3 separate regions of the Homo sapiens genome follow, and all the other regions are linked to region 1. The links come from fine-mapping of genetic effects on gene expression. A gene starts in region 1. Each other region holds a variant in brackets. All regions are shown on one strand. Distances are from middle to middle. Region 1 holds the start of OR6N1 (olfactory receptor family 6 subfamily N member 1). Region 2 has its middle 21 kb from the start of OR6N2. Region 3 has its middle 7.2 kb from the start of OR6K6.

Evidence for each region.
Region 2: its variant is fine-mapped to the expression of OR6N1 in whole blood (INTERVAL, PIP above 0.99). The same link has a PIP of 0.9 or more in neutrophils.
Region 3: its variant is fine-mapped to the expression of OR6N1 in whole blood (TOPMed, PIP above 0.99).

Annotation. Positions count from the first base shown.
Region 1 is chr1:158,766,158-158,777,078 of GRCh38, reverse strand. OR6N1 (olfactory receptor family 6 subfamily N member 1) reads left to right here and starts at 4,884. Exons shown (of 2, transcript NM_001005185.2): 1 at 4,884-5,058; 2 at 10,379-10,921. The coding sequence starts at 10,397. OR6N2 (olfactory receptor family 6 subfamily N member 2) reads left to right here. Exons shown (of 2, transcript NM_001005278.2): 2 at 1-2,857. The coding sequence ends at 397.
Region 2 is chr1:158,796,745-158,807,665 of GRCh38, reverse strand. It overlaps a transcript of OR6N1 not described here. Among named protein-coding and RNA genes, the nearest start is that of OR6N2, 21 kb to the right of the region's middle. The variant A/G (reference allele first, on the strand shown) is at 5,708.
Region 3 is chr1:158,742,106-158,753,026 of GRCh38, reverse strand. It overlaps the pseudogene OR6K5P. Among named protein-coding and RNA genes, the nearest start is that of OR6K6, 7.2 kb to the left of the region's middle. The variant G/C (reference allele first, on the strand shown) is at 5,208.

The DNA of each region.
Region 1 (10,921 bases):
CTTGGCCTGCAAGGACACATCTGCTAACATTCTGGTGGACTTTGCCATTAATGCTTTCATAATTCTTATCACTTTCTTCTTTATCATGATTTCTTATGCAAGGATCATTGGGGCTGTGCTGAAGATAAAAACAGCATCAGGAAGAAAGAAGGCCTTTTCTACCTGTGCCTCACATCTTGCTGTGGTCCTCATCTTCTTTGGGAGCATCATCTTCATGTATGTGCGGCTAAAGAAGAGCTATTCCCTGACCCTTGACCGAACACTTGCTATAGTTTACTCCGTACTAACACCAATGGTCAATCCAATTATCTACAGTCTTCGTAACAAGGAAATCATTAAAGCTATCAAGAGGACCATCTTCCAGAAGGGAGATAAAGCTAGTCTTGCTCATCTTTGACTTTCTTCCCATGTCCTTTCTCACCTCAATGTTCAATTCATAAAAGTTCCTTGAGTAATCTTCCCATCATCACACATGCTCTGAATTTCATTTCCTTTCACCTCTTCAAAGACTTCATTTCTTTATGATTTTCTCATTTTCTACATCTTTATTTCTATTTTTTACTCGATCACTTATGTCAGCATTTAAGAATATTTTAGTATCTACATACTTCTTTTTTTAAAAAAAAGCATGTATATTTCCTAGGTCCACACATTTCCATCCAGCTAGAGATCGATTTCTCTGTTCCTTTTTCCAATCAAACTTCTCAACACACCATATTTCCTCTTCTTTACTTCATATCCACTTCTCAACCCATTCCAATCTTATTTTGGCTCAGACCTTCCAACTAATATTTTGTGAAGGCCATTATTGACCTCAATGCTGCCAAATCCATGAGAAACTTCTTTTCCTTCCTCTCTCCTGAACTCTTGACACACATGACCAGTTTTTATGCCTCAATTCTCCTAACTTTTTACTCCTTAACTCTCCCTAACTCTCATGACATCATTACCTCCCAATTTTCTTATCTTTCTTGTGAGTCTTTCCCAGTCTTCGTTGTCCTGCCGTGCTATCTCCCTAGATACTCGGAGTTATTCTTATGGATTTAAATATGATCTCTATCACAAGGCCTCTTAAATTTTTATCTCCAAACCACAATTTTTCTCTGAGATTTAGATTTATATATTCAACTTCCTACTTATCAACACTGCCTGGATTGGACTTGTCAATAATTTAAAACTTAACATGTCAAAATTGATTTCTTAAAATTTCTAACCATGAAAGCTTGATGCTTTTGTTTCCTTGTGTTTCTTCTAGAAAATTTTAAATATTCTATTTTGCTTCCTTTTCTTACAACCATAATTCCAATCAATTATTAATGTATGCCAACAATCTTTTCACAAAATATATTCTTAAATCAATTTATTTCTTATACTCTTTAGTGTTTCTACCCTGGTGTAAATTACCAACATCTCTCAATTGGATTAATGTAATAATATTCTACCCATGCTCCTTTCTCCTACTCTCATTCTATTCTAATATATTTTCCACATAAAATATAAAGTAATGTATTTGAAATCTGAATTGTATATACCATTTTATAAAAACATGAGAAATTCTCAATTGCCCTTAAGATAAAATTCAAAGCCTCACCATACTTTATAAGGCTATAAACGGAATTCTTCCCTGCCTTCCTCTTCAACATAGATTCATACCTCTACTCCCTCAGCTCCCTCTTTCCTAGCTACATGATTACTCTTTCAGGTCTTCAAATACATTATGGATTTTTCTGGCTTCAGGATCTTCACTCCGTTTTTTCCCCAACATTTCATTTGGTTCACTCCTCCTAATTGTGTGATTTTCTGTTCAAATATCAATTTCCAGTGATGCTAGCTTTGAGAGGACTTCTGAACACTCAGTCTAATTTATGTCACTCATTTTTATCTCTGAAGTATGTTTTGCTTCTCTTCAAAATATGTATGGCAATTTATGTGTTTGTGGACATTTATGTATATATACATAGATATAGTTTGTCATTCTTTCCTACAAGTATCTATAAACTAGATTTGGTCTCAAATTATTTCAGATTTTTTATTTGTTGTGTGTCCAGAAACTAACACAGCACCTAAATAGGATGAGTATTCAATGCAATCGTAATGAATGAAACATGTGATGAATTTTACCCACACCTGGTCAATAATATATTTGGCCTTTAACAATGACATAATGATTCTAATCATTACTGAAACCCACTGTTCTATAGAATGCATCGGTCTTCCCTATTTGTACTCACCAGTTTTCTGCACATCCCACCTCAACTTGTCTCACATCTGCCTTTTGAATTTCCTTGGATAATACTGGTAACTAGTCCTTGCTTAGCTACTGTGCATCATACTAGGTTAATTTTCTGGATCTGTATTTTTTTTTTTCACTCACAAACTTTGGTGGGCATGTAAGCTATCCCTAGATAATATTCATTTTTAACATGATATGGTTATGCGTAAACATAAATTTTCATGTCATTTGGGAAAATGCATAAGTATAGGATTGCTAGGTCACACGATAAATGTATGTTTATAATTAGCTGTCTAACTGTTTTCCAAAGACTAGTGCTTTTTGGGTCCCTCCGCTGTGGTACAATGTGGGGCATGTGTAGTGAGAGTTCATTCAGCCTGGGCAGCTTTCCTGAGCTGTGGGAATGGGCTTGTGATGAACCCCAGGCTTCTGTTTCTCATTGCTGCATGTCTATGAGTAACAAATCTGCTTTTCTTGATTTGTTGTGTGTTTTATCTCAGCAGGTTCATGAACTAGGTAGAGAACCTTTGCATATATATGTATGTCCTTTTCTCCAAATCCTCCCTGCTGTCATCCGCACTATTTTATCATATATTTTTGTAAAATAAACACACAGTACATTGCTACTATTTTTGCTATATACAGTCATTTTCTGTAAACAGTGGCGGTAAAAGACATTGCAAGAGGGAGAGAGGTTAGTGAGTACTGAGGAAGTCAATGGAGCTGCAGTTTCAAGAAATGTGATACCATAAAAAAGACAGGCAGTTACGTGCTGAAGTCTGCTCATAGTTTTTGGGAAATGATTGACAACTTATTAGAAATTCTGTGGAACCAATAGCTTGGAATCAGATACAGTGGGAGTATTAGCACTATGCCAATCAGCAAATGTTATAAATCAGGAGCTTTTTAAAAATGGCAGGCTATCTCAAAGCTAAACAATGCAGGCACTAAAGTGGTAAGGACAGATTTAATCAGTAATATACAAATATACAAATATATATACACACACAAAAACACACACACATACACACACATAGACATAAATTATTTTGGTAGCCTTGAATTTTCTCAGGCAGGCACTTAAAGAGGTGCTAGGATAGACTATGGCCTTGAGTTCTTAGAAACTATGTTAGTGTTTGTTTAAGTCTTTTAATACATGTGGTGGGGGAGGGAAGATGGGGAGGGTGGATGAAATCATTTTTGCTGACAGTCTATAGATTTTGTAAGCCAAGGCTGAGGTTTAGTCAAAAAGAGAACTAGAGTTCAATGAAATTGAGAATCTTTGTTAGAGGAGTCAGTTGTTAAACATTTACCCCAACACATATAGAGACAGAATATCATTTGGAGGGGAGGGTAGCAGAATTGATGGATATATTTTAGGAATAGAGGATATTCTAGTTCACAGAAAAGAAGTAATTGAAATGAAACTGACAGATGTGGAAAATTTAATTTAAAAGGTAGTGGGTATTTAACTCTTAATTGCCTTATAGGGATTTAGAAAACCTGAATAAACCTCTAGTCATTAAGTAAATAAAATTATTACTTAAACTCTACGTATACTAGTCAAAAAACAAAATAATACTTTGACTCAAAAATTAAGTTATTAGTTAAATATCTATTTACCACAAACAAAATATTAAATACTGGCAACTCAGTTTGAAAAAAAAAAATCTTCCAGAAATAAATTAGGAGATAGAAAAATATAAACTTTGATGAAGAATATTGAAAGTGTGGGTGGGATGGAGAAAGTGACAAAAATTATTTAATTCTTCTCATAGTTCATATTATAGTTTGTAAGTACTTTTTTTTACATTATCACATTTGATTATTAATTTTATCTGAGGAAAGTAAATCTTCCTTATACTTTTTAAATTTTTTATCTGACAAATAATTATATATGTGATGTTTTGATACATGTATGCAGAGTAGAATGATCAAATTAGGCTAATTAACATATTTATCACCTCACATATAGTACTTATCATTTTTATTTTGTGGCAAGAGTATTCAAAATCCACCCTTCTGGCAATATTGCCAACCATGGCTCAGTGAGGTGCCTAATGTCTCATAAGTATTTGGAAGAATGGCTGGGATTGTATCCAAGATTCTGAAGCAGCACTCTTTACGGAGCAGATAACACTAGAGTAGAGAGGAGACTGCAGTGTGTAAGACAACATATAACGGCTATAAATATGAGCAACAGACAAGATTAGGAGTCGGTCTTGATGATATTTATGTCCCCAGTGTCTCCCTGTCCTCACCCTTTCAGGGTCAAAGAAGGTCAGTCAAATTTTATAAAGATCCTATCATAATTGAAAGTTGTATGCTTACTCCCAAGTCATGCAGTACAGGAACCCATTTGAACCTAGTTTTCACACCAGTTATTGTTATTTACTAAAGGAAGTAATTGCCTTGAGACATGTTCTATCTCAACTTGGACTGGTAGTTATTGTTGTAGTAACTAATAGGTAATGAAGGACTACTGGCTAATGAACTTGCTGTATGTCAGTTCCCTTCCTGAGAGAGCACTTTAGTGACCCCAGGAGGTCTGCTCAGAAGGCCCATGGGCTTCTGCCTCTATGAGGTCCCTATCAAGAATCCAGGTTTTATGGGAGAAGAATTTGTTTTATGGTTTAACTTATTCCCACAGGTTCCATCAAAGTGATAAACTTCAACCCCTCCAGGCCCCGGGAATGGCTGGGTATAATACTGCAAATGAGACATAGGAAGTATACAGGAAGTTCTCTTCAAACTTCGGACTCCGAGCAGTGGCTGGGCTTCCAGAGTCAAGCTCTAGCAGAGCACTCCCCACCAACAATCTCTAGGTAAGACTTTATCAAGCAGGCATTTTCATCTTCACATTCCTTCTTAGTCTGATCACTAAGAGACCTAGAGGATTCAGAAATATGGAGAGGTTTTTGAATAATCAGGGTCCATAAAACACATAATTGAAACACAGAAACTATTTTTAAAAACAGATATTCTGCTTTTCAAATGCTATAGTGAAGAGTCTGGCTTCAAAATTAGTAAATTGGCTATATTTTTAACTAACTGTGTAAACTGGAACAAGTCTTCTCCCCTTTCTGGATCCCAGTTTTTGTTGTTTGTTTGTTTGTTTCGTTTTTTAAATGAAGACGTTGAGTGTGATAATCTCTAAAATTGCATCTCCCTTCTTACCCCCAGATCTTTGGCCCTATGCCTAAACAATTATGAACTATGAATAATGCAGCTGTGGTATCTGAAGAAAAGAATGCAAGGCATATATTCTAAAAGCTTTCTAGAATTAGGGGAATAAACTATGATTTCAATGGACCTAAGTAAGATAAATGTAAATTTGTATATGTGGTAGGTTTTATGAGAGCCCTGATTCCAATATCAGGAATAGGAGTAGATGAGTAACTGATGAGCTAAAGAGCTGCACAAGTCATCTCAATTGCCCTCTTTTTCATTACCCACCATAACTCGGATATATCAGGCATTGTGCTAAGTACTCTAGGAGGTAGGACATGGTATGAAGTTTCCTCATTAATTTCAAAAAGCTCACAGAGAGTTGCCTTGGAGTGATAAGACATATGCCTGGAAAATAATTGCAGTGCATTACAGGATATAATTGGAGGGACAGTGAGAAAGTACTACTGAGAATTTAGAAGTGTGAAAGAACAGTATTTAACTTAGATGGTCAGGGAAAAAAATGACAGACTTGAGCTAGAAAATGATTCAAGTGTCTTCAGATTGACAAAAGATAAAGCATATTTTTAGTGAGGGTACACTGCAAACAAAGGAGTCTGGGCTAAATACAGAAACCCACTTGGCAAACATTGAAATTGCTATAATGGTGATGAAAAGAATGTTTGAACACATGACTCTGGACCAGAGCAATAGGGTTGTTTCACAGAGCAAAACAAAGAATAATGGTGAAAGCCAGGTTTCTGGTCATTGGAAAGGACAGTTGTAAACTAAAACATTTCAAAAATGGAGAGAACTGTCTTATGGGTCAGGAAGCTTCCAGTGCTGTAAATCCAGGCAGAGGGTTGATGCCCATTTGTGGCGATATGGATTCCTTTATGAGTGAGAAGATATGAGTTTTTGCTGGGCTGAATCAAAATTAGAAACATAAGTACAAATATGAAGTTTGATACACATGATTTATCCTTCTATTTTAGCCTTCCTTTTTGTGATATTTAAAGGTTTTTTCTTTTTATGAGCTGTTGGAAATATATAATACATTTCAGATATTCCAACAATCCAGTGAAATCCAAAATTATGGGGGCCACTGGAAAGTGATAGTTCCTAAAGCTTCTCTCAACACTAAATTAAGGTTTATCAGTACTAGCAGTTACAATCATAATTAGAAATAATAAAATAAATTTTTTAAAAAGGGAAAATCATCAGTATTTTTTGCCATCTTAAAGGGGGTGTGAAAAAGAGAAGGAAATGGTCCAAACCTCTGAGAACTGTGAACTTGGAAGATGAGGGAGTTGGGGGTGCTAGTTTTCCGTGGAAAATAATAATACTTGATCGGATCCTGATGACTTTGATTGCTTAGGCAGAGTATGGAGGGAGTGAACAACAGCAGGTCATTAATGAGTGATGATACAATGTATAGTGTGATAATAAGTCTTTGGAGTTATGTGGAAACTCTACCTTCTGAGAAAGGAGACGACAAAATACTGGCTTCTCATATTCAATCTTCTGACCAGCCATCCATGTAGATCTGAAAATTTAGTTAAGGGCTCACAGTCTAGACAACTCATCTGTGAGTGGGACTGGAGGCCAGAAAAGGAAAGAGGCAGCTCTAGAATAGAACCTTTTATTTATATTTAGAAGGGAAGGAATATAGAACATCTAGAAAACAAGGGTCTGAGAAGAAGTAGAAATTTAGGGATAATCCTTTATAGAAGGCAGGTATGCATTCAAGACTTGAAGAAAACAGAAGGCAGAATTGGGCAGTGGATAGACATGGATATGCGGTGAGAAAAACTAAGACAAAGAAATTTTGGATAATAAAGTAATTATTCTGAAGCAAAATCACCCATATAAAAGTTTGGCCCGGAAGTAGTTCTCTGGAATCTAAGTAGAGAAACATCCTATATTAAGTCTTGGATTGAGAAAGGCTTTTGTATATGGGATGGACATGCTCCCTAGGTTTAGAAAAATGCCAAGAAAAATCAGAGTAAACAAAGTTAGTTTGGATGAATTTCAGGATCCTGGAGAGGGAAGAAGTGATAAGAAGACCGGAGGGCAGAAGGAGAAGACTCGGTGTCTTTCATAACTCTCTGCCTTTGCACAGGCAGTTCCATTTGCTTCAAATACTTTTTATTTCATTTTTCCATCTAAAAAATTCTGACAGTTTCTTCACTTCAAATAAAAATTATATCTTCTGGCAAAGCATGGTGACTTATGCCTGTAATCCCAGCACTTTTAGAGGCCAAAGCAGGTGGATCACTTGAGCCCAGGAGTTCAAGACCAGCCTGGGCAATATGGCTAAACCCCATCTCTACCAAAAACACAAAAATTAGCCAGGCGTGGTGGTGCACGTTTGTAGTCCCAGCTACTTGTGGGGTGGAGGTGGGAGGATTGCTTGAGCCCAGGAGGTCAAGGCTACAGTGAGCAGAGATCCTGCCACTGCACTCCAGGCTGGGTGATAGAGTGAGATGCTGTCTCCAATAATAATAATAATAATAAATTATGTGTTCTATGAAATTTTCCTGATTTATCTCCATATCCAGCCCATGGCTTGTAACTCCTACTGCATATGCAAATTAGCAGTTATCTTAATAGATTTGCATATTAATTACATAAATATTTATTGAGTTGTAACTATATTTCAGACATGGCTCTAGGCACTTGACATACACCAGTAAACAAAATAGAAAAGAAAAAAATCTTTGCCCTTAAGGAACTTATAATCAAAGAGGAGAGAACCAATAAACAATAGGAATAAGAAATAAGTACATTTTACAGGTTAGAACATGACAAGTCCTCTGGAAAAAAAGTTAAAAATTAAGTAGAGAAAGGCAATAGCAGTACAGAATATGGATGTAAGGATGGAGGCACACTGCAGTTATATAGGGTGGCCCAGGTAGTTGAGCTGGTGAAATTTGAGCAAAGATGAAATAAATGAAAGAGCTATCCAAATGGTGAAAGAGATTCTAGAACAAGGAAAGAGCTACAGCAAAGGTTTTAAATGATATGTCACTGAACACATTTGATCGATGGAAACGCAGAACCTAATTTAGAATTTAACAGGATCACTCTGGTGTGTTGAGATGAGGCTACAAGTGAACAAATGCAAGTAGGGAGATCTGTTAGGAGTCAATTACAGTAAGAGGGGAGAGATAAAAGTGACTTGGACCGAGGTGGTCAAACATAGTCAGTTCCTGGATATATGAGAGAAAGATAGAAACAAGGATGACTGCAGGAGTTTAGCTTGTCAGTTGAAAGATTGCAATTGCCATCATTTGTGATGGGGAAGACTAGGGGTAGAGACCCCAGGAGTTCAGTTTGAGATGGCTCTTCGACTCCCAAGAGGAGATGTGAGTAGGCAGTGAAATATATGAGTCTGGAGTAGCAGAGAAAAATATCGCCTGAGATATGGATTTAGATGTCTTCAACACATTTATAGTGTTTAAAGCTCTGGTATTGGATGGTATAGAGCAGAGGAGTTGAGTTTATATAGAAGAGAAAAAAAAAAGATTAAACACTGACCATGGGCACTGTGACATTAAAAGGATGGGGCATGGAGGAGAAACTAAAGTTGGAGAATGAGAAGGAATGACTAATAAGATAGAAAGTAACCAAAAGTATAGTACCCCGAGAATCAAGTCAAGGAAGTGTGTGAACAGGCTGGATAAATCAATACTGTCAAGAAACAGATAGTCCAAGTAAGCTGAGGAATGAGAAATGACCATTGGATCCAGGAAATCTTAGATAATTAATGTCTATGAGAAAGGAGGTTTTAATGGAGTGGTGGTAGTATAAATCTAATTAGAGTGGGTTTAAGAAGAAACTTAAAGAGAGGCATTAAAGGCAATGCGTATAGCCGACTCTTGGAAGAGTTTTCTTTTAGGGACATAGAAAGAAATAGAGCAGTGGCTGTGGGATGAGTAAAGAGAAAGAATTTAAGGCTCTTGCTTTTTTGTTTGTTTAGTAGATGAGAATAATAGCATGTTTTTACATTGATAGAGTATTCCATGAAAGAGCTGTATAATAGTTAGTTGTTTCTCTATACTCTGTATTACAATATTAGTTTGTTAACATCAGGTGCCACATTTTATTTGTTTAGTCCCTGTTCTAAGTATAATGCCCAGAGTACTGAAAATAATCAATTATTGTTACATTGACCTCAACACAGTAGAGCATGTATATTTAATATCTACAGAAGCAATAAACCAGAAAAGAGCATTTGAAGTTGATAGAGGGGGAAATGGCAGGAAGAACTGATGAAGTGGCCACAGTCTGAAGTTGAAATGCAGAAAGATAGATTTGCCTCCTGTCTTTCTTTGGCTTTTTTATTTACTCTAACCTTCTTATTTTTGACTGGAGCTCTCACCAGTGTCCAAAAGAGGTCTAAATTCTGACCTACATGCCCCTGAAAGATGCTAGCAGACCTGAGTTCTCATAAAGGAATAGGAGGGAGCAGAAGGGAAAACAATTGATTCTTTGGTAGCCAGAAAGTTGAAGAAGAAAACAAATTAAAATGAGAAATTAGAAAATAATATTCAAATTATATATATTTGGTCCAGTACGGTATCAATATATTATCAGTATAAATGATGATTTTTACCTTAGATGAACAATATGTATAAATGTTAATATATACCTTGGATTAGAAATACCTAAATTTCTAAAATCTATATAGATTCTATTGAGAAAGTCAACTGGGTTACAGGATGGATTAGGAAGGCCAAAAATGAGCTGTGTTAATCAGGGAAGACTAAACATAAAGGTGAATAGTCTGAAGGAGGCTGTTGACAGGAAGGGCAGGGAGGGATGGAATTGAAATGTTGACCTCTCAAAGCATTTACTTAGAGGGCTTTACTCTGGAGGTGAGAGAAGGGAGGGCAATAGTAATTTGAGGGTTGCCTTCTTGTTAGAACCCTATAGTTCAACTTTCTTTCCTATCCTTCCACACTTCACATCTAGGGACATGAATGGTGAGCAATGGACACAGGGAACTGGAGCCAGGTAGCAGAATTCATCATCTTGGGCTTCCCCCATCTCCAGGGTGTCCAGATTTATCTCTTCCTCTTGTTGCTTCTCATTTACCTCATGACTGTGTTGGGAAACCTGCTGATATTCCTGGTGGTCTGCCTGGACTCCCGGCTTCACACACCCATGTACCACTTTGTCAGCATTCTCTCCTTCTCAGAGCTTGGCTATACAGCTGCCACCATCCCTAAGATGCTGGCAAACTTGCTCAGTGAGAAAAAGACCATTTCATTCTCTGGGTGTCTCCTGCAGATCTATTTCTTTCACTCCCTTGGAGCGACTGAGTGCTATCTCCTGACAGCTATGGCCTACGATAGGTATTTAGCCATCTGCCGGCCCCTCCACTACCCAACCCTCATGACCCCAACACTTTGTGCAGAGATTGCCATTGGCTGTTGGTTGGGAGGCTTGGCTGGGCCAGTAGTTGAAATTTCCTTGATTTCACGCCTCCCATTCTGTGGCCCCAATCGCATTCAG
Region 2 (10,921 bases), 31 kb before region 1:
ACTTGTATAAAGTTGCAGATGTAGATCAGCGCACCATGAGCAGAATGCTTATCTATTTGTGGCATCCAGGGATTCTGGGTTATTATGTGACCAAATGTAGTTTGATGGAGAAAAAACCTGCAGTTCTGATCACGCTTCTTTTCTCTCCAGCTCCTCTATTGCTTCCTCTGCTGAGCAGAGTAATCTCCCATTCCTTGATGGTGTCTGAACTGGGGGCCAAGTACCTGCTAGAGTATGGTCAGATAAATTAGTGAGAAAATAGGACCAGATCTTGGAAGAGACTAAGTATTGCCTAATCTTGAATACTTTCCATTTTCCTCATTCCTACAGATCTTACTGCTTTATTTTATGTATGTCTGTACTATGCCAGAAATAGTTACAGCTGCCTTCATGTTTTTAAAAATTTAATCTTTATAATATCCCTCTGAAGAAGGAAGAACATCCCAATATTTACGTAATAAAATTATAAAGATTATTGAACTTGCAGTAAAGACAGACAGATTCAACCCTAAATCCACTTCAGCTGACTGAGTTACCCTCCTCAGCCTCATTCTCTCTGTCTGTAAAATGAAAGGCTGGCAATGAATGAGTGCTCACATTCCTCTCAGCTTAGGGAGTTTTGATTCTATGCTTACAGTACTTTTTTTTTTTTTTTTTTTTTTGAGATGACGTCTTGCTCTTGTCCCCCAGGCTGGAGTGCAATGGCGCGATCTCAGCTCACTGCAACCACTGCCTCCCGAGTTCAAGCCATTCTCCTGCCTCAGCCTCCCAAGTAGCTGGGATTACAGGCACCTATAGCACTTCTTAAGGAAAGCAGGACCTGAACTAGGTCCAGATGTGTAAGATCTGAATTTGCAGAGCAGAGATGGAAAGGTGTTGGTACAAATTCAGGTGTTGCCATTTTTGCCTCTATGATTTTGGGCAAAAAACATAAGCTCTCTCTAATGCCAGATTTGTTTTCCTTTAAAAAAAAAACTACATCAAAGTGTTCTAAAGTTAAATAACACATACTAAGTATTTCATAAGCAAGTTAGTCTCAGCATACCAGAATCAGGACAGTATAGTGCTTACACCACGGTCTTTGAAGGCTCTCTGCCTGTGTTCAAAAGTCAATTCTATCATTTATTTGCTGTGTGATCATATGCAATACACTTAAATTCCCTCCACCTCAGTTCCCTTACATGCAAAATGGGGACAATAAAAGAACGTTAAGCATGTAAATATTAATCATTGTTACTTCAGAGTTTTCCACATAAATGTCTTCAGTGGGGATTTATTTCTTTGATAATGCTTAGTTTTACAGCTATCTCACATTGTTATTACAATAGACTTGGTAACTCTCCAAATGAGGCATCTTCTTTTGACCTAAGGGTCCAAATTTATCTTGTCATAAACTGAGTAGTCCCTGCTTTCAAGAAGTCTATGCTGTTTCCCAAATACATGGTGCAAAACTCTATTCTGCTGACAGTCTGAGTCTACTGCTTTTGGGCTCCTTTTCTTTCTCTCCTTCTGCACCTCACTTCACTCAGACTACTCTTTTTGCAGGAACTATTATGGGCCCAACAGAAACTCTTTTTTCCCTGTGGTGGCAGCACTAGAAGATGGCTTAAATTGAAATGGCTTAGATCACATTAATTAATAGGTAATTATAGTAATAATAATTACTAAAACTGTTATAGCAATTCTTGATAATTACTAATATCTGTGGGGTGCATACTGTGCAGTGAACATGGGGGACTTACCATCCTGTAGTGAAGACATAAGCAGTCATCTAACAACTCAAAGTGGCTTATATCTCACTATTAATTTGTACTACAATGCATGGTATCCACTCATATTTGAACAAATGAATGAATGAACAAACTCTTAAGAGTCAAATGGGTGTGATAGAGATTGAGTTCCCCTCTTGAAACTCCACCAGAAGGTATTTTTTTAAGATCCATTTATAGCTGCAAACTCCCCTTGCCTTTCATTCTGTACTCTATTCTATATTCTTTTTTTTCTCTTGAGACCTCCTTGGGTATTTCCTTTAGAACATAAAGTTCAGGTCATCTTTAGCGCAGAGCTTCTCAACAGATATAAATAACAGATGTGCTGAGTTACTGAGTCCTTGCCCCTAACACACACCCTATGAATGGTCAGATAGGACCTAAGGGAATTGAAGTCCTTGGACTGGTTGCCTCAAGCAGTAAGTGGCCTTTCTGTTCACCTCAGTGTGTCCTACAGATACCATCACTTTTATAAGCGCTATGATATGAAAATAAAAGTTTGAGAAGTAGTGCCTTAGTGTGACATATTGGGGTAAGTGCCCAAGGTGAGGTCCAACTTTTGGCCACTTCTCCCATGGTGACAATTGGATATTGACTCTAGCAACATAGACAGTAAGAAGCAGTCACGTCTGAAAGGCAGCATAATCAGACCATTCACTTGGTACTAGCATCAAGGCTGACATTCTGTCATACAGGACATTCAAACTCAAGTACATCAGAGAACAAAATGAAATACTATCAATGTATCCAGTGACAACAGATATAAACCACAGTTGTACTGGGCAAACAAGGGCATGTGACCTTGATGTATCACTTCATTTACATAGTTGTTTTAAAAGTTTATTTGCTTCAATAAATAATATCTCTAAAAGGTTCAAAAATTCATCTTATGTGTGAAGTTGAAATTTTTTCTTACATGTTTAAAAAACTTATATTTTAAAAAATAATCAGGTGATTTGAGGATCTGTCTCCTCCCACTCTATATAATAAATATCTTAAGGGAAGCAACAGTGTTATACGCATCCCATTTTCTCCAGTTCCTAGAATAAAGTCTGGGACATAAAAGCTGTTTCAAAAATGTATTAAATAAATAGATAAATGAATTATTGTGAATTTCCCTATTTCTCACATTATGTTAGTTGCATTTCATATCATTTTTTTCCTAACATTTACAGCACATTTTAAAAATAATGTATTACATATAAATATAGGACATTAAATGTTTAGGTAAATAAAAATTTAAATTACTTATAATCCCATTACTTCAAAAATTATTTCTCTATTTATTTCTAAATTTTAGTAAGCATATGCTGTTTTTCCAAATAGTAGCAATGATACTATGAAAATTTGAACATGCTGAATACTACTTTTATCACTTAAGCTTTTAACAAATAATTTTAGATCTCACCTTTCTCCTCAAATAATGAATTGCTTGATGAAGATATCAGTGTAACCACAGAACCAGTTCAATCTGGTTTAACTTTGTCAATAACAAAATACAACAAAATGATGACTTGTTTTTTAGTTGCAATGGACCCTCAGGTTGTATGTAACCCAAGTGTGCCCAGATGAACCAAGTGTGCCAGATTTGTGACCCTGGAGCCAACCAGAACAAAAAAGTAAACCACATGCAGAACCTAAGTATTCAGACCAAAGGATGGTGATCAAATTAAAAAGGAAAGGAGACCTGTTTTGTTGCAGCACAATCCTAAAAGTCAAGGACCTGGCATAATCTCTTCTCAGGAACCAATCAGATAACGCTTTGTTGCATTTTCCTATCTCCCTCTTAATTGCTCTCTGCCTATAAAACCTGTCCCCAGACCTCAGTTAGGGGAGACAGATTTGAACATTGCCTCCTGCCTCATTGCTGGTCAACCTTGAAATAAGGCTTCTTCTTTCTTAAAAACTGGTGTCACAGTATTGGCTTCTAAGCTCATGGGACAGTGAACCCATTGCACAGTAATACCAGAACTTGTCATTTTCCCTCACTCTATTTCTGATACAGAATAAATGCCAAGTAAGCACTCTTTACTGACAAGTGGTGACATAAAAGAGAAGAAACAATGTTCTTGACTAGGCAAGAACTAAACTTGGAAGCCTTGATTGTTTAGTACGCATATCTACACTAACTGATTCTAGGTAATGTTTACAATTCTTATGCTCAGGTATTTGTCATGTTGATAGCCTTCTGAGGGATCATGCATGGGCATTGTAATTTATTCAGTCAATGCCAAGCCATACAGGTATACAGTTAGACAATACAAATGATGCAGAAAGTCTGTCTCAGAGTCTGGCTCACAAGAGGAAAAGAGGAACGTAGGAACACCAATGTGATGTGATATAGGGAGGAATAAAAATGAGTATTAAAGTGGCCACTTTGAGTACAGCACAATTATTCATTTGAAGAATTGGGATAGATGGCTAATCTATATATCCATGAAATAAAAATGAAAACAAAAGATCTGTTGGTGCTTGAGACTGTGGGAGATGCAGTAATTTAGTGAAGGATAGTTTCAACTATCCATCTTTGTGAAAGGTTAGGTATTTCAGAGTAAGTGGGACATAAGCTAAATGCTGATTAAGGTTGAATGAGACCCTCATATTGTCCAAAAATTTGAGAGACTCTTTCAATCCCAAAGTCACATTAGTACTCTCAGAAACAAATATCTTCCTTTCCTTTGGCTCAGAAACTTTCCGTCTCCTACAGGAAAGCTTTTCCAATTTGAACTCAGAACACTTAGTATTTTTCTTCCGTTTAATATGATTTACTTGTTAATCTTTTTATGGTTACCTCCGTATCTTAAATTTAATATAGCAACTGCTTTCTTTCCACCTGATTCTGAAAAATAAAAGTACATTTGGGGCTATGAATGATTCAAATACCTTACTTCTGATAGATAAATGCTGTAATTCCATTATTCATCTGGACTCCATATCCATCTAAGTACATGCCCACAGAGAACACACAGCTGAGATAAGAGTTCAGATGTCAAGATTAGGATGTTGATGAACATATTGAGGATATGGATATAAGTAAAAGTAATAATGAAAAAGTAGATTAGTCTCATGAAGATGCCTGGGTAATAATAATGGTAGTGATAATGTAAGTAATGGTAATAATACTGGTGATGGAGACTTAGACAAGTGTATTAGGTATTCAACATCAATCATTTGGAACAATGGCTAAAGATAGCTGACATGGCAAAGGGAGGGACAGTGGTGAGAGTAACAAAGGTAGAGATGGTAAGCGCAAAAGTGATAGTGGTGCCTGTGCTGTGATAATATGGTGATGTGGTGAGGTTAGTAGGGATGGATGAGAAATCTCCTTGCAAAAAAAGCTTTTAAGATGAAACTCACCTCTGGGGTGCTAAAGATGTGATTCTTCATGTATTCAAGTTGGATTGTCTCTTCTCATGAAAAGCTATGACGGGGAGGCCAAGGCGGGTGGATCACGAGGTCAGGAGAGCGAGACCATCTTGGCTAAAATGGTGAAACCCTGTCTCTACTAAAAAATACAAAAAATTAGCTGGGTGTGGTGGCACATGCCTGTTGTCCCAGCTACTTGGGAGGCTGAGGCAGGAGAATCGCTTGAACCTGGAAGGCAGAGGTTGCAGTGAGCCGAGATCGCTCCACTGCACTCCAGCCTGGGTGACAGAGCAAGACTCCGTTTCAAAAAAAAAAAAAAAAAAAAAAAAAAGTGCTATGAGGGACTTGCAGAACTTCTAGAGTCCCAGAAGAGGCAGTGTCCCTGGGATTGGATTCTAGAGCCAGTGAGGGTTGCAGAAAAGCCATTTGAAAGAGAGTAGGGCTGCTTTACTTCTCTGTGTCCAACTTCCTACCCCAGAGGAGCACTTACAAAAAACTTTACACACTTAGCAACTCCAGAGAACATATAGCAAGGAGCCCCTGGGAGGTCAGCATTTCCAGGAACATGAAAT[A/G]TAAGTAGGGGAGTGTCTTGGGGTAGAAAAGATGCAGAGGAGGATGTTGTAAATTCTAATGTCATCAAAACCATCAGGTAATGGGCAGGGGTGGTACAGAAAAGATTAGAGTATCTAAAAAAGAGAACTAGGTAAAGGCTTTGATCTTTCCCAGATAAGGACTATTAGAATATGGAAAGAAAACTCCAGGGACATTGATATAGACCACCCAACTCCATATCCACCCTAGAAACATTTTTCAATGGCTTTAGAGATCCACAGACTACCAGGGTGGTGAGGGGCTTTATACAACATTTATATAGAGAAGGGGAAGTTGAAGTAAAGAAAGGAGAAATGGTTAAGCCCAATGTTCATTTTGAGTTAGTGGCAAAACAAGTTTACAAAGTCAATTTAGAAATAGAATGCTTTTTCTGTTGCGCTACAGCCCTTCTAGACCAACAATATAGGGGCCTTAGCTTACCAATTCCTCTCTCTCCTCATTCCCTTTGAGAATTCCTGATGCATGTCTCCCTTAGGAATCCTTCTTTAAAATGTACTTTGTCTGTTCATTGATTCTTCATGTAACCCTGCAGTTCTGACTTTGACAGATGGGACATTTCTTTAGGGACTAGATGGATACTTTTCTGTCTCTCCTGTTTTCTGGCAAGGTGGGTGGGAAAAAAACCCCGGCATTTAACAATTTTGTTTTAAGGAGCCAACCCACTCTCTCTCTCCCCACCGCCACCCCCACCTTTTTCTCTTCTTCACATACACACACAGACAGACCACACACACACACACACACACACACACACCAGTATGTGCAGCAACATACTGACTAACACCAAGAAACAGACTTTTTTTCATTTTGTTCTATGTACTTTTGTGATGATGGGAGGTCATGAAAAGTGGTGGGAAGGAGTGCATGGATTGGTGAGAAGTGAATGAGCAAAACAAAAGAAAGTCTCATGGAAGTGTAGAAGTGTATTGTGATCTCTTCTCATGCCTTAGACTTTAGAATGCTAACTGGGCACCCAGTTGCTACTTCTCTGAAGGTTCTCTGAAGACCAAGCGTGGAACTGTAGGATCCTACTAGGAGATTCCCTGTCTGAGGATAACATAGCCATAGCTTATTGAAGATACAAAAAGAAAACTTATTTTTGAAATAAAAACTCTCTGGACAACCTTTTAAAATTTCTTTTTAGTGATAGCGTAAGTTTTGGGTTTCCTGTTTTTGAAAAATGATGTTGAAATGCTTTCTTTCCAAATGCAGGGATGACTTTGTATTTATTTTAGCTTATTTTAAGAGAAAAGATATGTGTAGAGAACAATGTGTGTGGAGTAGCATACAGCAGCATTATCTCCCTCTCAATTTAGTAAATTTGACTAAGATCACAGAATGTTCTGGGGTCCCCACCTATTAAATGTGGATAAGTTGTCCAATTTGAGGTTTTTCTATGGCAATATACCCTCAGGTAAATTTTCTCTGAGCATCCAGCTCAGATACGGACTATATTCTCTTTTCTGACATTTGGTGGATCCTAAATAAAGGCAAACCAATTTTAATATTGTCAAACCTTGAAAATTAATGTTGTGGAGAAAAACAACAACAGCAAAATAGTAGAAATCAAATCCTTGATTTTTTTTTTCTTTCCTAGGTAAAAGCAACTTTTCCTTTGTGGTATGGGGTAGATAGGTTCAACTGTTGGGGTAAGCCAAGACAACTTTTGAAGACTTGCTTTGAGCAAACACCATTTGCAGCTAGGTGAATTCCACCAGGAAGTCACTGAGAATCATTGAACTTCTGATTTAAACGGTGCTTAAGAAGTCATCTGGTCTAAACCCCTCTGTCTTTACAAAAACATAAAACTGAAATCAAGAGGTAGGGAATAACTTAATTAATTAAGGTTACATGGCAACTTAGAAACAGACTGAGAATGGGATAGCACCAACGTTTTCTAACGCTTTCCAGTATACCTTTTGGCTTCTTTTTTTTTTCCATTTTATCTGAAGTAGAAAGCCTCTGGCACCAAGCACCATGCAACACATGTAGGCGGGAAAGCAGATACAATGAGTCATAGACTTCTTCTAGGGCCCTATCTTCCCATAGAGTAACTCATATCTGTAGACAACATGGCTGGCTGTGGAGGTTCACAAGTCTTGTCCAGCCACCCTTTCTTCTCTCAGACTCCTGCAGTCTCAATTTTCCTTTCCAGAAGTAAGTTTGGGTTTCATACTACACAAACCATCCCATGATGTCGCTTAATTTTGTGATCCTTGATTATACAAGGATCCCTGACTACACAAACATACGATTTATAGTTGGATGTCCTTTGTCTATTTTCTCATTAAATCTCCCACAGAAGGTAAATAGATAAATGTCTTTTCAACATTAGTTAGTAGGTAGATTCTAAACTTAATCCAAAAGATTTAACTTTCATTTAAAAACCAAGAGGATCTAATCATGTTGACTGAGTTTTCACCCTCCTTACCATCCCTGACAACTGTGGGTTTTTAGAACATATATGATCCCACAAGTCAGCCTACATATGACCTTTCACTTGAATGACCTTCTACTTAAACGTAGGCTAGAGAGAGAAAATCCTTTTAAACACGATTTATATGAGCCTGCAGAGTAATTATTGGGAAGGTATTTTTTGTCTATGTTTATTAAGGTCTAAACGTAATGCCAATATTTTATGGGTACGTTCGTCATTTCTTTGGCTAACGTGGTGAACAAATCATACAGTCTTTTTAAGCTTTCTCCAAACATTGACTAGGTGTGAGATAAATGGGGATCAAGTCACCTGGAATCTTCTCAGGTAAAAACTTTAGCAATAGAAAAAGATTTTTATTTTAATGAGAAGGTCTATTTCAGATCAACTAAATTAGATACTTTGAAAGTGGGGTCTAGTAATTGGTGTTTTAATAACTTCAGGATGTTATGCATGCAAGTTAAAGTCTGAGAACCAGCCGTCTACTCCAATTGGTGGGACTGGAAGGGGGAACTGGGCATATGTAGCACAGTTCTTTCCTGTGCTCTTCTCCCAGGGAGCCAGCCTGCCCGGTTTGTGTGTTCTGCTCTGCTTTCTGCCATGCAGTGGAAGGAGGTCTGTGGCTTTCCATGCTGCACAGTAATCACGTAAAAGCACTGTAAGGAAAATTAACACGCCCACTATCAGAGTAAGACATTTGAAATCTCTCCCCTTAGGAATAAAAACACCAGGCAAATAAATCATAAGTATATATATAAATTATTTGTAGAATAATTAACAAGGTCCACCTACTGGAGGCACATGGAATAAAGATTGATTTCAAGCACAGTGGAATTAAACAAATGCTTGGCCATAAAACAAGTGTCAATACAGTTAATAGAATTAATAATATTAATATAATATAGACCTCTGCTTCTACTAGTGATATAAATAAATTAGAAATAAATAAATGATAAATTTCACATGTCCATATGTTTGATATTTAAAGAAAATACTTCCATACAACTTACTCTCAGAAGTATCATAGGAAAAGTAGAAAACATCTATATCTGAACAATAACAAAAAGTATAATTTCAAAATATTTGGGAAAAAGTGCTTTTTAGAAGTTTATAGCCTTAAATTTAATATTATTTAAAAAGTATAAAATTAATTAACTAAGCATTCAAGTTTAAAAATTAGAAAAATAATGTTAGGGCAAAAAAAGAAAGTGTAAGAAAAAATCTGGGAGCAGAAATTAATACAATAAAAATAAATATATGACAAAAATGATATACTAATAAAAATGTTGGTTCCTAAAAATAAAAATAAACTCCTGACAAGACTAATAAAAAATAAAGGAGAGAGAGGGGCAAAAATAAGAAAGATTAAGAATGAACAATTGGCAGAATTACAGATGCATCAAAGTTTAAAGTTATAATAACATATTACTAATAATATATGCCAGTTAATTAAAATTTTAAATTGGCTGGATTCATTTCTAAAAAATTATAAATTAGAAATATCAACATCAGAATTAATATAAAATCTAAATGATATTAAATTAGAAGTTAAAAAATCACTAGAAAGAAAACATCAGTGGCAGCTTGCTTAATAAGTGAGTTCTATCTAATATTGACGAAAAACATAGTTCCTATTTTTACATTCTTCTGAGAATTAAAACACTGGCAATGCAGCTCAACAGTGCATTTTACAAAGATAGCCTAACAGTGATTCCAAAATAAATAAAACTAGTAATGTGAAAAAATAGATGATAATATCATTCATTAACATATATGCAAAAGTCTTCCTCCAAATATTCCTAAGCTAAATTCAATAATCCCAGTTAAGAACAAAACAAGATTAATTACCAATATTACTTTTATTTAATATTGTACAGAAAAAATATGACTTAGGTCACCAAAATGATAGAGTAGAAGCAACCTGGCTCCACTACCCTCGATCTCATAGAAAATAAAAAACAAACAACAAAATATACACATACAGTGCAGAAATTATCACTAGCAATATCCCAGAACCCAAATAGAAGGATGAGATAGTTTCTGGGGTTGCAGAGAAGTAAAAACGCTGTGCAGAGGGTGATAGAATCGGATTTTTATAAGTATAACGCTTTCCCCCCGATTTGTCATGAACCAGGCATTTGGGAAATTTCCCCTGATTCACAGTTACTACATTGGAAAAGGTAAGTTCAAGATGGACAGCCAGCTTTCTCAACATCTTGGGTTTCCTGGCAGGAGACCTGTTCCTGCCTCAACACACAGAAAGGTGCACAAGTACTTGAATGGAGAAAAATTCCTGAAGAATGACAGAGACAAAGGGGGCAGGTGGGGCTAGCAGCATCCCCAGCCTGGGAAACTCTCTGTATCTTGGCTGAAGGAGTTGCCAAATTAGAGTGTTCAGTAGAACCTCACTGTAGGAGGTATGTTCTGTTAGTCTCTTGGGCACAAAATCCTAGACAGCTTTCCCATTCTGCTGCATTATCCCCTTTGGGACCTCCCCCATCCTGGACAGGCAGCACTCTGAACACCTGCTAAAACAGAGGTAAACCTGGACTTAGTTGCCACTTAGTGCTGAAAAGGAGGCAGTGACCTACAAAAAAAAAAAAAAGGTAAGTTGTAAAGAAAACGCTAAGCAAACATATCCAATAAAAACAAAAATATATCAGATAAAGGAGACTGGAATAAATAATTTTTCAATTTAAAGACAAATGTACATACACAAACAGAAAATCATGAGCTCCCC
Region 3 (10,921 bases), 24 kb after region 1:
TCAGTAAACACTCTTTCCTCTCCACTTTTATTCATTTTCACTATGATTTCTATTCCCTCTGTTGATATAATCAACATCATCATATTTTTAGAAGTTTTTAAATGCAAGTCTTATTTGATCCTTTAAGAAACTTATTTGTATGCTGAAAAAAATAGTTAACATGGTTAAGATTTATGTGATTTGTTTTTCATCATATTAAAAAAACCTCTTTGTATAAGGTAAGCAAGACTACAGTGATTCGCATTTTGCAGATGTGGAGGCTCAGAGAAGCCAAAAGCTTTCTCCAGTACACACAGGCAATACAAGGCATGGAAGAAACTGAACCTTAATCCTCTGAATTCAAATCTAGTTAAACACTAGCATTACCTTTCAATTATATCTCTACTGATTAGTCTCAAGTATATATTCCCTGACTTAGGAATATATTGCCAGTATTGACGGTAGCAGTGTGGCCAGGGCAGGAACCAGGGACAAGGGGGAGCCCTGCGCCTTCCGAGTTGGGGTGGGAGCACCCCAGGGTGTCGCTGCAAGCCACTGTTGCAGACCCAGGCATCCTTGTGCTCTTGGGGCCAAGGAGAAGGTGAGAGCCCCATCCTCCAGGCGCAGCTGCAGCCACCCAAACCCAGGCTGTAGATCTGGGCCACCTGCTCCATGGAACTGGCAGAAGCCCCACCCAGGAGGTTCGGGCTACAGCCACCCAAGTCATGACTGTGGATCATGGCCTCCCACTCCTCCATGCAAGTGTAGCCACCCAAACCACGGCTGCGGACCCAGGCACCTCTGCGCTCCTGGGGTCCTGGGAAGGTCCCCCTTCTCTTGCAGGTTTGAAAGTGCCTGCTCCTGCTGCCTGGCTTCTCCCTGCTGTCAATGTCCACTCCAATCTAGGAGCAAAGTAAGGGCTGAGACCCAGTCCTATTGTAGTCTGTCCAGGTATGCACATGCTACAAGCAGTGCTGATACACCAGCCCCTTGATGCCTTCTCCCTCTCCAGACTTTGGGCACCAAGAAGCATAGGAGGGAAGCCCAGGGGGCACAGAGGGCATCTCAGAGCTGGCATGCAGGCCCCCCTTCACACCTACAGCCTGGGGGCCATGAATGGCAACAGAAGCAGACAGATTCCTGGGCAGAAGGGGGCAGGTCCCTGGTAAGGTCCCACATTCAAGCCAGGGAGGGCCTGAAAACTGGGGGCTGGGGTACCAGTCCCTCAGACCAGAGCGGGAACTTACAGTGCCCAGCTAATTTTTGGATTTTTAGTAGAGACGGGGTTTTATCACATTGTCCAGGCCGGTCTTGAACTCCTAACCTCAGGTGATCTGCCTGCCTCGGCCTCCCAAAGTGCTGGGATTACAGACGTGAGCCACCATCCCCGGCCAGGGAGTCTCTTTTTTGTGCTTGTAAAGCATCTAGTGCCTACACCTGTTGTTAAAATTATCTAGTTATAAGTCTAGATTCTAAGAAATTTGATGATTATCTATCAATATTAATTTATATTTTAACCTTTAATGCATAGCCCTAAGACTTACCTAAACTCAGGTAGTGTATGTTTAATAGAAGACGATCAACTAGGATTTTGAGGTGATAATACAAGATCCATGTTTATAGATTATTTAGCACATACGCCTGGCTTCAATCATATGGCATGTGGAATGTAATAGGGAAGAGACAGAACTGGAAGGTAGGGTTTGGCAGAGTGTGGAGGTCTTTGAATGTCAGACATTGGGATTTTGAAAGCATATTTTTCACATAACGGAAAGTTATGAGATAATTTTTGAGTTGGAATTAATGCACAAAATTGCGTTGATGATATGTAGAATGCATTTAAGTAGAGAAATTATGGAAGTAGGAAGTATTATTTATTCAACTCACATTTACTGAGTACCTATCAGACATCAGAGCCTATTCTGCAATAATCTGGAGTAAAGGCCTAAAATAGAACTGTAATAATGGAATTAAAGGACAGAAGAGATGGGAGTAATTGTGAATAAAGAATCAATAGGACCCGACACCTGATTATATTTGTGCTATGATGGTAAAAGGAACATTAAAGGTAACAGATTCATAAGGTTGAGTTCGTCTGTTAGATGGCACTATCGACAGATATAGGACCAGCTAAAGCAAAAGCTTGTAGGGGCAATTATAAGAAGATGAGTTATAGATATTTTATCTTGAAAATGTGAGAGAACTTTTAAGTAGAAATGTCTATTTGCCATTAATGATGAAGAATTGGATTTCAGAAGAGATGACAAGTCTCTTCTTGGACACATCTGTGGACACAGATGTCTGTTATTTAAGTAGAGATTATAATTGAACTATGAGAATGCACTAGATAATTGAAAAAGAATTTAGGGAATATGAGAAGAGACTGGAGGATTACAATAGGTAGGTGAGAGAAAAATGGTATTAATAGTAAATAACTTTCATTTATTAAATATGTGACAAAATCTGCTAGGGCATTTTTATATTTCATCTCATTTTATCCTTTCATAGTTCTGTAAATTAGTCATTATTATTTCCACTTAACAGATGAGAAAACTAAAGTTTAATGACCATGTATTTTCTCTGTAGTCAGGTAGCTAAGCAGGTGGCAGAGTAAGAATTTGAACCTAGGTCTATCTTATTGTCTTATCCTGAAGAGTTCAGGAAACGAAGAGAGAATCAAGGCAATGATGTATTGCAGAAATCAAATGAGAGAATTACAGGAACAAAGAAACAATCACTGGGTGAAATAGGGAATTCGACTAGCTTTTTCTTTTTTTTTTATATACTTTAAGTTTTAGGGTACATGTGCACAACGTCATCATTTTTTATGGCTGCATAGTATTCCATGGTGTATATGTGCCACATTTTCTTAATCCAGTCTATCATTGTTGGACATTTGGCTTGGTTGCAAGTCTTTGCTATTGTGAATAGTGCTGCAGTAAACATACGTGTGCATGTGTCTTTACAGCAGCATGATTTTTCTATTATTATTTGTAACACTCAGCAAATAAAATTTAAATATATTATATAATATATCTTAATCTCCATTAAAAATTATATACATAGGTATGTATATATACCTATATAAAGAGATATATATTTAAAAATGGGTGTCCATCATAAAAAGTAAAACTTTGAAAATAAGAAAAAGAAACACACAGCATTAAGACCATAAAGAAGAAAGAATGAAATTAGTTAAAGATGATATAAAATTTCCAAATGAAAATAAAGACAAATTATAACACAAAGTTCAGCAAGTGCATAGATACAAATGGATATATTTAACATTGCATTATTATATGTAACAGTTGACAAAAAGTGTAATAAAAAGATGCCATTTGAAGTATCAACAAAAATAAAAAACTGTAAAAGATATGTTACATCTAAACATAGCACTTTATAAAACTGTATTGGACTATATCAAAAACATAAATAAATTGATCCATATGCTGTATGAATGAATAGAATGTCTCAGTTACATAAACATGCCAATCATCTACAAGTCAATCATTTCAACCCAATTTCAATCAAAATCTCATTTTGAGTAGAGAGGAGTGGGATATGTAAGAATGAGGGCCAAGAAGAAGACATTTCAAAGGAGGAGATTAAAATGGTGCCACTTGTCTATTTAGTAAAAGTTATTATGAAGCAATATTTGTAATAAAATAGCAGTGGGAGTAAACAGCCAATGGAAGCAAAGAAATAGACTAATATAGTATGGGATTTTAACATACGTGAGAGTAGGTATAGCAGACCACTGGGGAAAAGATGAACATAGCCAGCACAACAGGTCTGTGGAAAAAGGTGCATTGTTTAATCAATTGTATTGGAACTTTAGTTAAAATTTTTCAATTCCATATAAATATAAACCATAAATTTAAAGACTGATGAATAAAACTATTTAATAGTTCGTTTCATCAAATAGCATCATTAAAAAGAAAAACAACAAGATATACACTAGGAGTCTGTATTTGTAATAACGTTTATAACTGATTATTTTTATTTAGAATATACAAAAAGCTTCTACAAAGTAATAAGAAAAAGATAAACAACCAAATGAGGAGTACACACACACACACACACACACTCACACATACACACATACAACATTCAACTGCAAATCAAAGCAATAGCATATTGTTTACACAACAACTGAGTAGCAAAAATATGACCACCCAGAACATTAGAAAAGATGTGCAACAATAAAAATGCATTTATTGTTGGTGGTAGACAGATTCTGAAAAACAATTTGGCAGCATCTAGTGAAGTTGAAGATGCAAATATTCCAGAATACAAAACGTTGAAGGCTAATGAATGATTAAATTGTGCTCCATTTATACAAGACAGCAGGGATTTTCTTTTAAAGTTGCAGCTAGATACATTGATGTGAATGATTCTCAAAACATATGTTGAGTGAATAAGCAAATTATAAAGTAATGCCTAAAATACCATTCTATTTACATAGAGTAAAACAGAACTAAACAGTATATTGTTTTTGAGTGTGCACACATGTGCTAAATAGAATAATAAACACAAAATTCAGGTGAATGGTAATATGTAATATGGCAATAAAGAACTGGATTGGGGAGGAAAGTGTAGTGGTCTTCAAAGTTATTCATAATATTCTATCTCTTAAGTGGGGTTGTAGGTTCATGTGAACAAGAAGTGAAAAGGTGGAGACAGAAATACTGATAAAAGAGTAAACTATGCTTTTAGGAAAATAAGATCGGGAAGAAGAAAGGCAGTATGGCAGACTTAGAGCAACAATGAAAATGAGAAAGAGTATATACTTTAATATGTTTGAGCATATTCATAAGCTATATAAGCAGACTAAAAAGAGGAAAATTTGGAGGATACATAGGTAAGTGAGACAACTGAAGGAACAGTGTCTCTGCATGAGATGAGATAAATAGGTTCAAAGCGTAAGAGGAGGAATTTATCTTAAGTGGTAAGACTGGATAAAATCAGGGTCAAAAAGTAAACATCAGTGTGGCTACAAATTAGACTATCTTTGAGTCACTATCTGATTCTTTAGCTATTCGCCGATTCATTTAATTATTCGTTTATTTAGCTACATATTCCTTAATCGAATGCTTATTGAGGGACTGTCTTTATTTATTGTTATTGTTTTTTATTTTTATTTTTTAGAGACAGAATCTCACTCTATTGCTCCGGTTGAAGTGCAGTGGCTGCTTACAGGGGCGATCACGGTGCACTGCAGCCTCGAA[G/C]TCATGGCCTCAATCAGTCCCCCTGCCTCCACTCAAGGATCTGCCTTAAAAATCGCCTATTAAAAATCTAATCATTCAGAGTCGAAAGTCACCTCTGCTCTGACTCATTTTTCGCACCATATATGCCTGTGTCTCATAAGTTTTTTTTTTCTAATTTCAAATATGCTTTCAAATTCTGTTGCATTTCTATATCCACTGCTACTGTTCCACTAAACATTTAACACTTCGTGATTGTTTTATATCTCTTTTTGTGATAGAAGAAAAAAATCTTATGTGTTGTATATGTCTATTTCTTCTGCCTTTACCCACCTGGAGGTTAATATTAAGTCCAATTTCAGTTTTTAAAAAGTAGGAAAAAAAGAATTAGAAAAGTATCCTTCTGCTTCTATTTCCTGTCCTCTATATGAGGGCCCTTTTTTTTTTTTTCCTCAGGTCTGTCCAAGGTCTAGCTCATGTGTGCTCATCAATACAGCTTTCATGTAGCAGGAAAGGTTGCCCTTCAATCCTTTCCTGACTCCATACACTTGGGATATCTGCTGCTGGAACCCCTGAAACCCATGAAATCTCATGAGAGCCCCCTCATTACTGCCACTACTGCAAATGGCCCTGTGATCCCTGGATCCTTCTGAAGAAATTCTACTAAGCTGTGCTGGATGGCAGCTGGCTGAATCTTCTGCAATACACTTCAGGGTTGTGCTGTGTGATCACTAAACTGCTCCAAAGAGTAGAGAAAATTCTCCTGCCTTTGAACCACATTGCGTTAGTTTCATTCCTTTTGTTCCTTATCCTTTCCCTTTCTCAGCAGATTTTGTAATTTAAACTATTCTTTTACCCCTTGGACAGAATGGAAAGCCAAGTACTCTTTTCATCTGATTTCTAGCCTGACTGAAAAACCTAGCTTCCCATAGGTGTGTTGACCTCATGAAAGGGGAGTGTGTCAGCAAGTGTTTTCCTAATTAGTCTCATGGGGCATAGAGTTGCTTTTCCCTAAGCCCCCCAGGAAAGAGCCCTTTAGAAGAAAGCCTTTCTCCCACTTAGCAATTCCCTGTGATGCTTAGAGGTGTGGCTGTGGTTACAACCTTCCTACTTATTGGGCTGCAGAGCAATGAAGATGGAGACATTTGGAAAAGAGGAGGTGGCTCTGTTGGTTTCTGGAAGAGGTAGCTATGGACTGATGGGTGGACTTTCTACTTTGAGATATGAGTGAATGACTTTGTTTACTAGATATTGGGGGACAATTTTCACAGAACCATATTATTTCCTATTGGACTTTAAAGAAGGACTTGTGGAAATTTTGTTGAGATTGTGACAACACATGAGGTAGAGGAAAGGACCATAACTTAGGGATGGAGGGCTTTGGTGAGTGTTTGTCCTACAATTAGAGATTGCCGTAAGATAACAAACACCTGGACTAAATCTGTCAAATTGTGTCTGGCCCACTAGCTCTATGACTCTTTCACAACTCTACTATTTTCTGAGCTAAATTCTAATCTAGGTTTGTATTGTATTTAGTGGCATCAGGACAGGCTCTTAAGAATAAAGGAATGTCAGGACAACTAGTGGAGCTTCTGGTTGAGATTCTGGGGTATCCATTCCTACAGAAAATAGGAGAGTCCTATTAGGTATAACTTTGCTCCCAAGACTCTATATCAAATTGCCTTCCTATAGGCATCCTCTTTCCTTCTTAAAGACTCAAGTTCCTAAAGACCTACCTTTTTAACAAAAATTTCCAGATTTCAATTTTCTAATTCCAAACGGTACTGGACATAGAGCTTAATGCTTCTTTCCCTGTTTGTCTCCCTACTGCCTCTGTAAGCAGAACACAGAACAATTACACGGGTATCATTTTCTATCATACTAGGAAAGCCTGTTGGGGATAATACAGTCATAAGATATTGGGATGACAAAATAATTTTACAATCTCATATACAGCCATATTATCTGTTCTGCTTAAAGGCTCAGGTTTGATTTGGAACCCTACAGAGAGCCAGTATAAGGTTTTCAGACAGAGGATTGACAGCTTTGCATTTAGGAAAGATTATTTCAGTAGCTATGTGAAAGTGAGATGTAGTAAGACAAGTCTGGAAACAATAAGCCCAGATAAGAGTAATTAAGGTAAAAATTGCTAGAGTATAAATTATTTTTTATGAGCCTCCATTTCTTATGTAAAAGTTTTCTTAAAGAAAAACAAGGGAATTTTCACCTCATATTTTCCTGTTTCAACATAGACTTACTATTTTGCTGTATGTATAAAAAGCAAGAGAAAAAAAATTGTGGTTGCCATATGCCAAGCTGGGTTCTTACTTGTGTATAGCCTCCGGCATTACGGTTTCCAAATAATTTTATCTATTTATTGTATCCATTGGCAGTTCAGAGTTGTCTGACTTTTTTGGTAGATATCAGTAGCTTTCTCCATTTAGAGGTCCCATCTTCACCTCAGTACCAAGTGAAGAGTCAGAATTCTGCCATGCAAACAAACGTTTATTAGCAAACAGGCAAAAACATACTACTATTAGGCCTTTTCTTGGAAGCTCATGGAAGTCTCAACTCTTTTTCCTTATGCTTTCTGGTTAGTATAATAAATGAAGGTTTCTATCAAAGATAAAATGTAATAAAATTCTCTGCAGTAGAAAAGCTAACTTTCTAGTGAGATTAGGTGATAAATACCCTTTTAAGGAGGGAACACAGGAATGAATGGATCATGTGCCTATTGCACCTCTCCAAGCTCTATAGGCTGCCTAGCTCATCCTGTTTTATATCCCTGCAAGCCAGAGGTTAGGAATACTTTCAGCCAATCAACGTATCTTGATCACCTGGTTTTTCATTAAAAAAAATTTCTGTATGCCAGTGGTTCTTAACTGGCACAAATTTTCTTCTACTTCTTCCCTGCAGGGACATTTGGTGATTTCTAGGATGATTTTGGTAGTCATGACGAGGGAGGGGTCTATGCTACTGACACCTTATAGGTGAGACCAGGGGTGGCTGCTAGACATTCTATAATGCACGAACAGCCTTGCCTTCTCTCTGAGCAATGAATTGTCTGTTTCAAAATGTCAATAATGCTGAAATTGACAAAACCTGCTTTACATTATTTAATAAACTCTACAGTGTGGATACAGATAAGAATATTTGAAGCCCTTGTCAAAACTGCCTCTTGAGGTAGACTATTGATTAAAGTATTTCAAATGTTGCAAATTACACCTAGAATGTAATTTCTAGATTAGCTCACTTCAACTATTAACTAACTCCCTGTGATAGTTAATACTGAGTGTCAACTTGATTGGATTGAAGGATGCAAAGTATTGATCCTGGGTGTGTCTGTGAGGATGTTGCCAAAGGAGATTAACTTTTGAGTCAGCGTGCTGGGAAAGGCAGACTCACCCTTAATCTGGGTGGGCACCATCTAATCAGCTGCCAACGTGGCTAGAATATAAAGTAGGCAGAAAAACATGAGAAGACTAGACTAACCTGGGCTCCTAGCCTACATCTTTCTCCTTTGCTGGACCCTTCCTGCCCTCAAACATCAGACTCCAAGTTCTTCAGTTTTGGGACTCGAACTGGCTTTGCTTGCTCCTCAGCTTGCAGACAGCCTATTGTGGGACCTTGTAATAGTGTGAGTTAATATTTAATAAGCTTCCCTTTAACTATATATATATCTCCTATTAGTTCCGTCCCTCTAGAGAACCCTAATACACCCCCTTTAGAGTGTAGATTAGATTAATTTGTATACCCATATATGTCACATGAGATTAGCCTCTTGTGTCTTAAAGTAAATAATATTTGGTGGAATGTTTGGATTTTTTCTTTTCATTCAATTGTTAATAATGAGTCAGACTAAGGGAAGCTGCTAATCATACTTTAGTTTCAAACATGCGCACTTAAAAATGAGTTTATTCTTATCCACAGAGGGTATCATTTTGTCATGACCCATTCTTCTGTGTCCCCAACACTTCATCTCAAAAAAATGAAAATGTCTACTTACTTAAATTGTTCCTAATTTACTGTTATAATAAATGTTCTAGCTAATATTGTCATATATTTCTTTTTTAATATCTGAAATATTTCCCCTAGACTACATAGTGAAAGGCTTAAACTCTAAACAGTCTTAAACTCTCAATATAAATTGCCAAATTGCCATTCAGGGGAGTTTGTACCAATTTATATGTCTAACTAGCAATACTGTTAGCTTATCCAACAGAATAATTGACAACATAAGTTATTATAATTACTAAATTTGACAGGATAACTTTATATGTTGCAAAATGACTCACATAGTATATTTTATTTAACCAGCCTAATTTCAAGGCTGTTTAGTTGCTTGAAAAGAAGGTTTTTATTTGTTCTTTGCATGTACTTAGAATGTTGACTGTGTTTTATGAGCCAACAAGTGAAACCGCTGAAAATATGGATCCAGAGAATCAGACAATGGTGACTGAGTTTTATTTCTCTGATTTTCCTCAATCTAAGAATGGCAGCCTCTTATTCTTCATTCCTATGCTCTTTATTTATATATTCATTCTTGTTGGAAATTTCATGATTTTCTTTGCTGTCCAACCGGACCCCCATCTCCATAATCCTATGTACAGTTTTATCAGTGTCTTCTCCTTCCTGGAGATTTGGTACACCACCGTGACTATCCCCAAGATGCTCTCCAACCTTCTCAGTGAACAGAAAACCATCTCTTTCATAGGTTGCCTCCTGCAGATGTACTTCTTCCACTCACTCGGGGTCACAGAAGCCCTAGTCCTCACAGTGATGGCCATTGACAGGTGTGTAGCCATCTGCAACCCCCTTCGCTATGCAATCACTATGTCCCCTTGACTGTGCATCCAGCTCTCCACTGGCTCTTGCATTTTTGGCTTCCTCATGTTACTGCCAGAGATTGTGTGCATTTCCACTCTTCCATTCTGTGGCGCCAACCAAATTCATCAACTCTTTTGTGACTTTGAACCTGTGCTGCAGTTGGCCTGCACAGATACGTAAATAATTCTGGTTGAAGATGTGATCCGTGCTATTTCCATTCTGACCTCTGTCTCTGTCATCACCCTTTTCTATTTAAGAATCATCACGGTGATCCTGAGGATTCCCTCTGGTGAGAGCCGTCAGAAGGCTTTCTCCACATGTGCAGCCCACATTGCTATTTTCTTGCTGTTTTTTGGCAGTGTGTCACTCATGTATCTGCGCTTCTCTGTCACATTCCCACCATTACTGGACAAGGCCATTGCACTGATGTTTGCTGTCCTTGCCCTACTTTTCCTTTTTTTTTTTTTTTTTTTTTTTTTGAGACGGAGTCTCGCTCTGTCGCCCAGGCTGGAGTGCAGTGGCGGGATCTCGGCTCACTGCAAGCTCCGCCTCCCGGGTTCACGCCATTCTCCTGCCTCAGCCTCCCAAGTAGCTGGGACTACAGGCGCGCGCCACTACGCCCGGCTAATTTTTTGTATTTTTAGTAGAGACGGGGTTTCACCGTTTTAGCCGGGATGGTCTCGATCTCCTGACCTCGTGATCCGCCCGCCTCGGCCTCCCAAAGTGCTGGGATTACAGGCGTGAGCCACCGCGCCCGGCCCTTGCCCTACTTTTCAACCCAGTAATCTATAGTCTGAGGAACAAAGATATGAAAAACGCCACCAAGAAAATCCTCTGTTCTCAAAAGATGTTCAATGCCTCTGGGAGCTAATGGAGTTCACACACACCTCTTCAAAGAAATCTCATCATCT